Regions from separate parts of the Homo sapiens genome. Here regions 2, 3 and 4 are each reported to be linked to region 1. The links are microRNA targets in miRTarBase. Many come from high-throughput screens and were not tested one by one. Region 1 holds a microRNA gene; each other region holds the end of a gene's coding sequence.
The links. The annotated mature microRNA hsa-miR-6830-3p reads UGUCUUUCUUCUCUCCCUUGCAG and lies in region 1 at 895-917, shown strand. An mRNA with a match to its seed (bases 2 to 7 or 8) in the 3' UTR can be bound and repressed. Matches are read on the target gene's strand: a 7mer-m8 pairs with bases 2 to 8, a 7mer-A1 pairs with bases 2 to 7 and ends in A, and an 8mer does both.

Region 1 (3,134 bases):
TAGGCCAGGATTTTGATATGTTTGATTATCTGCATATGTGTGTACATGCCTATGTGTCTCCTCACCTAAATTAGTCTTTTTCACTTTGTTGATCCAGTGATTGTCATTGAATGCCTTTCAGACACTTCCCTCTGTGACCATGAAACTCTGGGTGTCTGCATTGCTGATGGCCTGGTTTGGTGTCCTGAGCTGTGTGCAGGCCGAATTCTTCACCTCTATTGGTACGTGCCAACAGGACTGTCGTCTCCCTGACACCTTGGCTCACATGCCACGGATGTCTCTGGCTGCAGCCTGTTCTCATTTAGAGTGGGATAGCCTTAACTACTGGTTTTGGCCAGTTCTGAGGAGAGTGGAACTGGCAGAGTTGCTGTTTTCCCCTATAAGATCCCAATGATCTGGATGTTCAGGGAGCCAGATGTCTGAATTGGGTCTTTCTTCCTGGGAAGTGCAGGCTGCACTTGGGCTCTCTGGTCTTTTTGACCACCTTGCCCATGGACCAGAGAGTGGTTCTGAGCAGCAAATCCTTTGTATCCTGAGGATCAAGCTTTTCCTATCCTTCCGACCTAAAGTTCAGAGCTTTTTATCCTGTGGTGAGCCCCCAGGATATCCATGCCCCAGTGTCATGACCAGCTATGTAACAGTCGGAGAATGAGATTTAGGGCTGCTTCTTGAGTGACATCCAGTGCACTTATCTCAAACATCCCCTTGGTGCCTCTGCCTCTTTCTTCCTGAAGTTGCGAGATAGAGCCCCATGAGTGCCTAGGCCCCCTTTAACTCCAAGTCCCCATAATCCTCAGAGAGCTGACATGTTCTTATCCCAGGGGACTTGCTTCTGTGCTGGTATTCTGTGCCCCAAGGAAGGAGGCTGGACATCCCTCATCTGTTTCTCACTGGTGTCTTTCTTCTCTCCCTTGCAGGGCACATGACTGACCTGATTTATGCAGAGAAAGAGCTGGTGCAGTCTCTGAAAGAGTACATCCTTGTGGAGGAAGCCAAGCTTTCCAAGATTAAGAGGTGTCCTAAGTCCCCAACCATCCTTAGTTGGCCTTCCTTCCCTTCTGCCCCTCAAGGAACAAGGAAGCCATCCAGGGTGCCTATAAGAGGAAACCTTTGAGAGGGTGATGTGGGGCTGGCCTGGTTACTTCATGCCAGTGCTTGAGAGGAGCTAAGTACATGGGCTAAGGAGTCACTGTTTATTTTCTATTTAAGACCTTTTCCCTTACATTGGGGGTCCCAGCTGTTATCTAGATTAAGGGGCTAGAAGTATCTGTGGGGAGTTACTGTATTCATTTTTCATTGCCTCTTGATGAAAAGGGCCCCAGAACCTGGCACCAGGGAATTCTCACTAGGAAAATTGTCACAGGTCAAGACCTATGTGGGTGGACGCATTAGTCTTCCTTTTCCTCTGGTTCCACAGCTGGGCCAACAAAATGGAAGCCTTGACTAGCAAGTCAGCTGCTGATGCTGAGGGCTACCTGGCTCACCCTGTGAATGCCTACAAACTGGTGAAGCGGCTAAACACAGACTGGCCTGCGCTGGAGGACCTTGTCCTGCAGGACTCAGCTGCAGGTGAGGGACGGTGAGCAGGTGCTTGAGTGAGCCCATATGTTTGTGTGCTCATGCCTGGGTTGTTGTGTCTGAGCCTGTCTTGGGTCTGGGTGTTGGTGGGCAAGTACATTGTGGAAACAGGACCCTGCTGGTCTCATGGCTCTCTCCCTTCTCTGTGGGGACCTGGAAGTTGGCTGGCCTTGGTTTTTAACATGTAATGATGTTCAGTTCTTTTTTTAGCGTCTTTTTTTTAGTGTCTGTCTTTTCTTATTTTTTGCTAATGACATTTTTCCAATTATACTTTAGTGATACATGTTTATAGAAAAGTCGGAAAACACAAAAACAAGAGAATTATAATTCTTAATCCAGTTGCCCAGTGGTGAGCATTATTAAAATTGTAGTTTTTCTACCTATGCATATACATTTAAAAAATGGAACTATACATACATACCAGGGCATGCAAACTCAGTTGCTTGGAGGGACAATGAATTTACAAGTGTCAAGTGGGCTGGATGGTGGGGCCAGGGCAAGTTGGGGAGCATAGGTCTGATCTAAATTCATTCCTATTCATATGTTTTACAAACAAAGCATATCTGTTGGTAGATTTGTGACAGAAGAAAAAATTCTGTGAATTTCTCAGCTTCTTTATATGCCATTCAATGTTCTTCTGCAACATGATTTTAATGGCTGGATGGTGATTACCTGTCAGATGGTGATAATCTGTCATACTGATAATACTGTCAAATGGGTCAAGTCATTGGATATGGGATTTTTTCTGAATTATCAGCACCTTTTTACATATTTCTTGGTGTATACTTCTGATTACTTTTTTAGGGTAAGTTCCTAGAAGTGATATTACCGATGAGAGTGTGAACTTTTTAAAAGCTTTAAACTATACTTGGTGCTTTTATTGTGATAATACTTTTTATGCCCTAATACTTTTCTGTCAATAAGAAGAGATGGTACGGTGGGCCTGGAGGTGGGCTCTCCTAACTCCTAGCCCTGGGTTTAGTCCCCTGGACTCACTGACTTTTTTTTTTTTTTTTTTTTTTTTTGAGACTGAGTCTCACTCTGTCACCAGGCTGGAGTGTAGTGGCGGGATCTCGGCTCACTGCAACCTCTGCCTCCGGGTTCAAGCAATTCTTCTGCCTCAGCCTCCTGACTAGCTGGGACTATAGGCACATGCCACCATGCCCAGCTAATTTTTTTTTGGTATTTTTAGTAGAGACAGGGTTTCACCATGTTGGCTAGGATGTTCTTGATCTCTTGACCTCGTGATCCACCCATCTCCACCTCCCAAAGTGCTGGGATTACAGGTGTGAGCCACCATGCCCGCTGCCTTTTTTTTTTTTTTTTTTTTTTTTTTTAAAGGGACAGGGTCTCACTATATTAGCCTAGACTGGAGTGCAGTGGCTATTCACAGGTGCGATTGTAGCACACTGCAACCTTGGACTCCTGGCCTCACGTGATCCTCCTGCCTCAGCCTCCTGAGTAGCTGGGACTATAGGCACAGTGCCATTGTACCCAGCTCTTCACTGCCTCTTTTCCCTGAGCTGTGAGTGCTGATTAACTTCAGACTAGCTGTC
Region 2 (3,134 bases), not on the chromosome of region 1:
GTTACATACCTTAGTTATTCAACATACTGTTCTCTAAAATGTTAAAACACATACAGCAAAGTTTTTGAGGATTCTGTTTTTTAGGTTTTAGTCCATAGTTTTACAATGCAGACATCCTTCAGAAAAAACTAAGCAATCATAAAAGCTAAAAGGTGACAATGGAGAATTAAATCTCTCATCACTAAGGCTGCATTTGGCTTGGAAAAATTTCTTGGTTTTAATTCAGGCACATGCAGCACCTCCTTTTCACTAAACTGAGACAACAGACAAGTTTCTAAACACATATTCTACACTGATCTTGCTCAAATATAAAAGAGCCAGCAGGAGAGATGCAACTCCTAAAACTGATGCAGTGTTATAAAATAGCATATTTAAATATTGGGTTTAAGTCTCCTAATAATTCAGAGTATTTCCCTCATTTTCTTTCAGAAAGGAATAAGCTATTTTGAGAAAGACACTTAAATCCTACAATATTTAAATACAAAAGCATGTCTTTTTTAAAAGATAATGCTAATATAGCTACAATGGGTTAGAAAGTGCATTGTAAAGAAATAAATAATTCTCTGCTAAAACTCAAAAGGTGAGTCAGTGCCCACTGTTTCTGCCGACAGTCATTTGAAAAAAGAAAATCCTATGGTACCACCATTATATATAAGCTACTTAAAAATTATGAAAAGTGAAATAACTCAAACCTAAAGGCTGTTATCTTCAAAGCACTTTTGAAAAACAAACAAACATAGCCCTTGTCCTATGCTTATATACCATTTTTTAAAATCCTCATTCAGTTGATGTCTTGTACTTAGGTGTCATGCCATCTTTAAGACACAGACCTCAAGTAGAGCATTTGTAAAGAAAACCTCATTGAATGTAATATATTTTATCAGTTATCTTTGTATCATTGCTGAAATGTTTATGTAACAAATTGATATCTGAATAAAATGTTCTGTAAAGTATTAAATCAGGAATGTACATGATACAGTACAATTCACAGCTTTCTCTTCTTGTTCGCCCAGATGAGATCCCTCAATTTCATGTTTAAAAAAAACCACCCAAACCTTTTCGCAAAATTCAAGGTAACTATCAGTTTAGGAATTGAATTACACAATATCAGATAAGAATATTAAAAGATCAAGATGTATTGCAAACTGGCAGGTTATGGTTTTGGCCCATTATAGTAAATGTGAACTTACAAACTGTGTTCCTAAAATTACCATATTTTCACTGGAAAAAATCAGCTGTTCTTAAATAGGCCCATCGCCAGCAATAGGCTTATACTAGGAAAAACACACACCACAAAAGATCATCCCTTTAAAAAGTAACTGTCAAATCCTAACACTTTTTCCTCTTACAACCCATTAAACAATGAACTATTTTAAATCCCAAAACGTAGCCATCCCAAAAGTAGTCAGCTATAAAAGTAGTCAGAATACCTTGTTTCTAGAAAAATAGAGCTATACATAACTGATGCTAATATTAATCCTTTCAAGGACAAAAATCTAATTTTGTCACAAAGCATACCCTCTATCAAGAAAAATATAACTTAAACACCCTTAAATATTTGTGTTGGATTTGAAATCTATAGCAATAATGAAATAGCCACAATTTTCTGTGTAGATATTGTGGCATCTTGCAAAATAAGCCACTATTGGAAGATCTGAGTATGTGAAGACAGGATGACTTACAAAATCTTAATTAATTTTGCTTTAATTATTAATTTTGCTAAGAATTTAATATCCAAACTGCATTAACCTTCTGGTTTTCTTTCCTCTCAAGTCAGTGACTCTTAGAAAGCACAAACATTGCTGGTTGTGCTCAAAAAGCTCCATTTAAATCCATTCATGATTGGTTATCATGAAATGACCTTGAAAATTTTTTTTCAAACGCCCGGTTTAAAAGATTACATTAATCGTTTGCGTTTAGCATGTAATTATTAGGTGTCAACATCCTTAAAAATACTTATATATTTTGTAAATAAACTTGCAGCTCAATGTTTTTATACCAATCTTTCAAAGAAAGTAATGCTGGTGAACATGTCCAAGTTTCAGATTAACTTTGGTAGAATAAAAAGTTGAAATTCTCAAAATAATTTAGAAATGTAGTCTCAATATTATCATACAATAACCTAAATATTTAGTTTGGTAAACTTTCTTCCTTGCTCTTACTACCCCATTTGCCCCATTGTGTGTAAACTGTAGTTCAATTTGTTAATTATCTTACTGTTTAATAGCCAGCAATACAGAATACAGGATAGTAACTGATCTTATTTCCTACTAATAGCCATGAGTCACTCTTAAAATATGCTGCCATTATGCTATGTAATGATCTCAAAGGGCAATATCACCTAAAATGTCAAAGGAAACAAACTGTTGATGATTTTAAAGTTCTATCAATTATAATTCTAATAAAGTATAACACTGGGGGAAAAGAAAAGCAGAGAAATTCCAGTAACAATTTTATTTATCCCCCTAATTTTTATCATGGGAAAAATCCAGAAATCAAATGTCATTATGTTATATAAGGTTTAACTTACTTTAAACAAAAATGTAACATAGTGTTAAAACTGGCTTTCCAAAACAGTCACAGCATAGCTGTACTCTGTACTAATAATCACAAAATTGTAATATAGAACTCTGTTATGCAGTCCCATTATGTTCTTACAAAAATAGAATTAAACTGTGTGACCAGACAAGGACTTCAATTACACTACTTGGCAAACTTAGAATTTCAGTGGAGTCTTTTTCCTCTTGCAGTTTAAAGCAAAAGTCAAATATCACATCTTTTTCAAGACTCACAAAGATGATTCAGGTTGTTTGTTTGGCATGTTTTTAATCTCTATCACAACAGCAGGGATGTTTTCAGCTTTAGTCCTCCTGGGCTTCTTCTCTAGATTGTTACTAAGTTCTAAACAAGAAATGCTAACTGCTGGGGTCTTTTCTGCATCCTTTCCAGAAGGGGCTTGTGGTAGTGTCCCACAACATTGCTTCAAAGCACACTGGGTTCTGCAGGCAAGTTCACACGGAACTACACTTGATTTAGAGCCTACACTAGCAAATTCAGGCTGAATGGTAGTAGCGTGAATTCCGTGATTATGAAAAACGTCTTTAATGGTTTTAGCCACCTCCATGTATGATGTT
Region 3 (3,134 bases), not on the chromosome of region 1:
GCAGACATGGGGTCTCGCTATGTTGCCAGGGCTGGTCTTGAAGACCTCCCAAAGTTTAGTAATCTTATATGAACTGCTTTTACTTTTCTGCATTGTACCCAGAAGGTGATGTTTTACTTAATATTTAGTCAGTTATTTTAACCAGAAACTTTTAATACTAAGCAAGGGGGATTTCTTCCTTTCTATCACAATTATACTACATTCCATGTGGACAACTGTATCTCTGGCAGTTAATTCTAGAGGTGGAAATTAGGGAAGGGGGTAGTATGGAAGCATACAGCATTTACAAAACTGGCAAAAAATAAAATAAGTCAAGGGGAGGCTCAGATTCTTTCTTTGGACAAAGGTGGGCTTTGAGGAAAGATCCTCACTCATCAGAGGCCGAGCCCTACACTAACCACAGTAATTTGTATTGATACCCAATTTAGTTCAGGAGCTATAAAAATGTATGTTTGCGGCCAGGCGTGGTGGTTCATGCCTGTAATACCAGCACTTTGGGAGGCCAAGGCGGGTGGATCACGAGGTCATGAGATCGAGACCATCCTGGCTAACACGGTGAAACCCCATCTCTACTAAAAATACAAAAAATTAGCTGGGCACGGTGGCGGATACCTGTAGTCCCAGCTACTCCAGAGGCTGAGGCAGGAGAATGGCGTGAACCCGGGAGGCGGAGCTTGCAGTGAGTCGAGATAGCGCCACTACACTCCCGCCTGGGAGAAAGAGTGAGACTCCGTCTCAAAAAAAAAAAAAAGTATGTTTGCATTATTGCACATAAAAATTAAAAATTGAGAGCTATTTGTATTCATCTATTGAGAGAAACGGTCTCTGGGGGTTAGGATGGGGACCTGTCCCCATTATAGACCCGTTCTGGTCTATAATTTACCTAAGACGAGAGCAGAAAGGGTTTTAAATGCTGATCCTAAGTTGTCGTCGGAGGGCAGTACCCCAGAGGACAGGGGAATCATTCCTAACACTGGCAGGGGCCAGAGGCTGACAGCTGGCATTGAACACCTGAATGTCAGGATATTACTCGCCTCTCTCTAATTCTTCCCAATAGAGCGGATACACTCTGGACTCCCTGGGGTGGAGCAGCTACATGGGCAGTTTGTACTTGTTCCTCTTGTCTCTTCATCTGCCCATAAGCCCAAGGCACTCAGAGTCTTCCCTCACTGACACCCAGCAAGCCGGTGAACACACCGGCCCACTGCATTGGGAAGCCCTTTCCTTTTGCTAAGGACTGCATTCGTCTATGCTGCATCTTGAGGCTGTGCAGTATCACCTCCCCTCCTCCATGGTTTTTCTTCTCTAGGCCTAGCAGGCAAGGGAGAAGGAGAGATGCCAGAAGCCTCTGTCTTTCCTTCCCCATTCGTTTCTTACTGAGTCTTGGAGTTAAATTGTTAGTTAGTGCCGGGCGTGTGGCTCACACCTGTAATCTCAGCACTTTGGGAGGCAAAGGTGGGCGAATCAACTGAGATCAGGAGTTTGAAACCACCCTGGCCAACATGGTGAAACTCCATCTCTACTAAACATACAAAAATTACCTGGGCGTGGTGGGGGGGCCCTGTGGTCCCAGCTACATGGGAGGCTGAGGCAGGAGAATCACTTGAACCCGGGAGGCAGAGGTTGCAGTGAGCTGAGATCACGCCACTTCCCTCCAGCCTGGGCAACAGAGTGGGAGTCCATCTCAAAAAAAAAAAAAAAAAAAAGAGGAAAGAATGCCAATTCATGATTTAAAAGTAAAATCAAATAGACTCCAGCTGTCAACTTAGCATATTCACAGTAGGTCCAGCACCGCTTATATCTAATGTTTCATAGTTCATAATGGAGTAACATTCATAGTTACTGAAGTTTAGATAAAAGAAGTGTCACCCTCTATGGCAACCCCTCCCCTGAAACACACATGGACTCTAGTCTAGCCATGGGCTCAATACTGTTTTAAGCATTGCTACTACACTACCACCAAATCTCAGTTTCTAACAGGGGGCAAAGAGCATTTTTAGAAGACGCTTAGTAACAGAAAAATTAACCAAGGGAAGAACAATCTTAATTACGGGATATTTTTACTGGAATGTAGACATTACTTTTGAATATATAGGACAATAGAAATTGCATCAAAGCAATGCTGCCTAACAGACACAGCAGGAAACTTATTGGCATGGCCAGGCTAGTATATTTTCTCATTAGTATATCAACTAATTATAGGAAAAGTACTGTTTCTAAAGTGCTTGAAACATTTGCCTACGTCACTGTTCTCTTTTTCAATGACCTCCTTCATAAAGTCAAACTCTAGCCCAAACTTAAGCCCATCTCACTGCATATTGTAAAGAATGGATTCTGAATGAATTAACAGAAATGCTTTTATATAGGAGGTTGCAGAGATTCTCTTGCAGTCAATGTCTAGAGGAGCTGACCCTCAGGCATCACTCAGAGGAAGTCCCAGCCAAGATTCACAGATCTGTATGTAGCCTTCGGTCAATATCACAGTGTACATCAGGAGTCTCAAGTTCATTGCACAGAACTGGTCCTGTAGCAGGGAAGACTCAGAATTCCTGAGTTTTCTCCTTATGGTGACTCCTCAGGGATAGCCACCATCTTAAATCCAGGAATGGGGCCCAGCTGGGAATGGAGAAAGTTGCAGGCCCACATGCTCCCTGGACGGAAGTCACACGGAGCCTCTGTGCGGGCACCTGAGAAGCTGCCAGAACACCTGCCCAGCAGCAGTGCATCCTCCCCACTCAGTGTCCATCTGCCATCTAGACATGGAGGAGGAAAAGAAAAGAGACAAATATGAACACACTTTGGTTTTCCCACTGTGCATCTCTATGCACAGCTCACACGCACACCCATGGGAGGAGGCGAGGGGGAGCAGCATGGAAGCTCAGCCACCCCTCTGTGTGTGGCCAGGGCAGCCATCACTGGTCCTGCTCTTTTCCTGGGAAGGCATCCCCCATGCTACCTGGAGGTACAGGGTTAGTCATGCCTTTCACCGCTGAGTGTGCTCTGCTGAGCCAAGGACAACCTCCACCCACACTCCCTTTGACTCCCCTCATCCCCAGCTGTTCTTCGTGACTCTGACCCATCCTCCCCTCCATTCCAGTCATTTCTCAAAAATGACACCCTCACATACCACACCG
Region 4 (3,134 bases), not on the chromosome of region 1:
AATTGACTCCATCTTGCTTCTAATCTCCAAACTGTCCTTTTCATTCTTGGGCGGAGGGTCAACTAACTTTGGGAAAAACTTAGTATACAGTTTAAAACAAAGATGATAACAGCCCTTTCCCAAAGCAGTCTTCCTTCTTGCCTAGGGAGTAGATTGCATTTGTAGGACTAACATTAGCCACAAGATTAGAAATTATGGTTTGGGAGTCATGCAGCTGGAGGCTACAAGATTCTGACTGTCTCTAAACTGCTCCTAAGATCAGTGCTTGAGATATTTTGCAGACCCTGCACATCATGAATCAGCTGGCACTACCTAGATTGATAAACTGGCTCATCTGATCTTGTGGCCCCCCCATCTAGGAACTGATTTGGTCAGGAGGACAGCTTTGGCTCCCTATGATTTCATCTCTGACCAATCAGCAGTCCCGGCTCACTGGCTTCCCCACATCTACCATGTTGTCCTTAAAAACTCTGCTCCCCGAATGCTAAGGGAGAATGATTTGAGTAATAAAACAACGCTGGTCTCCCGCACAGCTGGCTCTGTGTGAATTACTCTTTTGTCTGTTGCAATTCCCCTCTTTTTTTTTTTTTTTTTTTTTTTTTTGAGGCGGAGTCTTGCTGTGTTGCCCAGGCTGGAGTGCAGTGGTGCGATCTCGGCTCACTGCAACCTCCGCCTCCCGGGTTCACTCCATTCTCCTGCCTCAGCCTCCCAAGTAGCTGGGACTACAGGCGCCTGCCACCACACCTGGCTAATTTTTTTGTAATTTTAGTAGAGAAGGGGTTTCACCGTGTTAGCCAGGATGGTCTTGACAGGATGGTCTTGATCTGCTGACCTTGTGATCTACCCGCCTCGGCCTCCCAAAATGCTGGGATTACAGGGGTGAGCCACCATGCCCGGCTCCCCTGTCTTGAGGAATTGGCTCTGTATAGGCAGCAGGCAAGGTGAACCCCTTGGACATTTACACCTTCAACAGTGGCATTTGTCTTGTTTATTGTTTTTTTAGAGGTTGTTGTTGGAAGTTTTGGGAGAGAATGGGAAGGGTCCAGGAAAGCACCGAACACAATGGAGATTAAAGTACAGGAGAGGCCGGTCGGTGGCTCATGCCTGTAATCCTAGCACTGTTGGAGGTTGAGGCATGATAGTACAGACCTGCAGTCCCAGCTACTCGGGAGGTTGAGGCAGGAGGATTGCTTGAGCCCAGGAGTTTCAGGATGCTGTGAGCTATGATAGTGCCACTGCACTCTAGCCTGGGTGACAGAGTGAGTCCTTGTCTCCAAAAATTGAGAAACTCAAAGATGTTCAATTGGTGATGGTACTACAATGTAAGGGGTGTTGGGAAAGATGACGAGTGTTTTCAACTTCTACAATGAAGAGTGTTAATGTAGCAGCATTTGAGATTGAGGGAGCAGGAGTGCTAACATCCTGTGGGCTCAAGACAGTGCTGCACAATTGTCCTTACTTTAAATGCCAATAACATCCCCCACTGATGATTAAATTAATCCTTATATCACTAAAGATTACAGAAATATGACATATGGTGGTATTATCTGGTCTCAAGGATCCAAATGGAATGCTGATGTCACATCCAGGTACTCACAGTGTCCTTGGCTTGTGGTAGCCCTGAGAGAAGTGGTATTTGCTTTGGATAGGAATGTGGTAGTTTAGACTAGATACAGCTGGAGGGAGGGAGTGCTCCCTATCAGTGGAATATTTTTATACAACAAATTAACACTCTCAAGTTTATTTCCAACATTCATTTTTTATATTCATTATAAACAGGGTGATATGGTTTGGCTATGTCCCCACCCAAATCTCATCTTGAATTATAGTTCCCATAATCCCCATGTGTTGTGGGAGGGACCTGGTAGGAGGTAATTGAATCATGGAGGCAGGTTTTTCCCATACTGTTCTTGAAGTAGTAAATAAGTCTCACAAGATCTGATAGTTTTATAAATGGGAATTCCCCTACACAAGCCCTCTCTTTCCTGCCACCATGTATGATGTGACTTTGCTCCTCATTTGCCTTCTGACATGATTGTGAGGCCTCCCCAGCCATGTTGAACTGTAAATAAATTAAACCTCCTTTATAAATTACCCAGTTTCAATTATGTCTTTATTAGCAGCATGAGAACAGACTAATACACAGGGTTAAACTACGGAGAATTGGCTTGCATTATAGACTGGCTGTCTATCACATTGAGCATCCTCAGAGGGAAAGATGTGTAGACAATGCTATGCAAACTTCTAAGTTTTTCTTAGAAACATTTCTAATGGAACTATTTCATACTGGAATCACAGATTAATCAGTGAATTTTTTGTGTGTGAAAAGGAACCTCAGAGACTACCTTGAACCCACTGTCATGCTTCTGAATACTTCAGTGTAGAAATACAAAGCGTGCTTCCGTTTTGGTCACTCATACCATGCAAGTAAATGAATAGCTGAATACCTTTGATTTTAAATGTAAATATGACCTTTAGAAATAACAGCTGGTTTAAAAATGAGCCAAAGTGTAAGTAAAATGGGCAACGGATATACTTCAGTTCCCAAAGAACATTTATAAGGAAAAGTTGTGTTTCCTTTGCAGCTTTCCGTCTTAGAGAAAAGACTTCATCATCTTATATGTGATGTGGCTTTCTGGGCTCCTGACATCTTTATAGAGTTTGACTGGAATTTCCTTCTCTTGAAAATGAATGGGCATTTTCTTGCTCTCCACACTCATAAGCTTCACTCCCAGGGGGCCCAAGTTTACATAATCCTATGGTGAACAGGCACAAAAAAGAATAGGAGAGGTGATTCAGCAAATTACCAGCTTGATAGATTAGGCTTTCTTTATTACAGTTGGCCTTTATCTGACAGACTTCATTGCCCCCTAATTGCCTGATGCTGTGTAGCACATGAAATATGAGAGCCACTATAAATGGGAAAAAAACAAAATACTCAGGAAACTTATATACCCAGTAGGGCATACACAGTAGGCAAGATCTTCCAAAAGCAGGCAGCAAGGCTGGAAGGCTTGTCTCATAGTGGGTTAATGGGGGAGGGATGCTGGCTATAGTTAGTGCAAAACTAACTATAGTCTGTGAAAGGAAAATAAAAACATGGGACCCCAATTCACTTTGCCAAAAGGAAAAAA

Region 2: miRTarBase lists SLC30A1 as a target of hsa-miR-6830-3p. Seed matches in the 3' UTR shown: 7mer-A1 at 490-496.
Region 3: miRTarBase lists SUSD1 as a target of hsa-miR-6830-3p. The part of its 3' UTR that is shown has no 7-base or 8-base seed match.
Region 4: miRTarBase lists CCDC83 as a target of hsa-miR-6830-3p. Seed matches in the 3' UTR shown: 7mer-A1 at 2,109-2,115.

The regions. Positions count from the first base shown.
Region 1 is chr5:132,215,632-132,218,765 of GRCh38, reverse strand. MIR6830 (microRNA 6830) reads left to right here and starts at 848; the gene lies at 848-917. It overlaps P4HA2 (prolyl 4-hydroxylase subunit alpha 2), which reads left to right. Exons shown (of 15, transcript NM_001017974.2): 2 at 122-221; 3 at 918-1,014; 4 at 1,418-1,569. The coding sequence starts at 140.
Region 2 is chr1:211,572,600-211,575,733 of GRCh38, forward strand. It overlaps SLC30A1 (solute carrier family 30 member 1), which reads right to left. Exons shown (of 2, transcript NM_021194.3): 2 at 1-3,134. The coding sequence ends at 2,789. Among named protein-coding and RNA genes, the nearest start is that of SLC30A1, 5.0 kb to the right of the region's middle.
Region 3 is chr9:112,038,740-112,041,873 of GRCh38, forward strand. It overlaps SUSD1 (sushi domain containing 1), which reads right to left. Exons shown (of 17, transcript NM_022486.5): 16 at 3,128-3,134; 17 at 2,044-2,753. The coding sequence ends at 2,753. LINC02977 (long intergenic non-protein coding RNA 2977) reads right to left here and starts at 1,685. Exons shown (of 3, transcript NR_186812.1): 1 at 1-1,685. RefSeq lists enhancers at 2,293-2,932, 2,328-3,134, 2,933-3,134.
Region 4 is chr11:85,918,971-85,922,104 of GRCh38, reverse strand. CCDC83 (coiled-coil domain containing 83) reads right to left here. Exons shown (of 11, transcript NM_001286159.2): 11 at 2,092-2,756. The coding sequence ends at 2,595. Among named protein-coding and RNA genes, the nearest start is that of CCDC83, 65 kb to the right of the region's middle.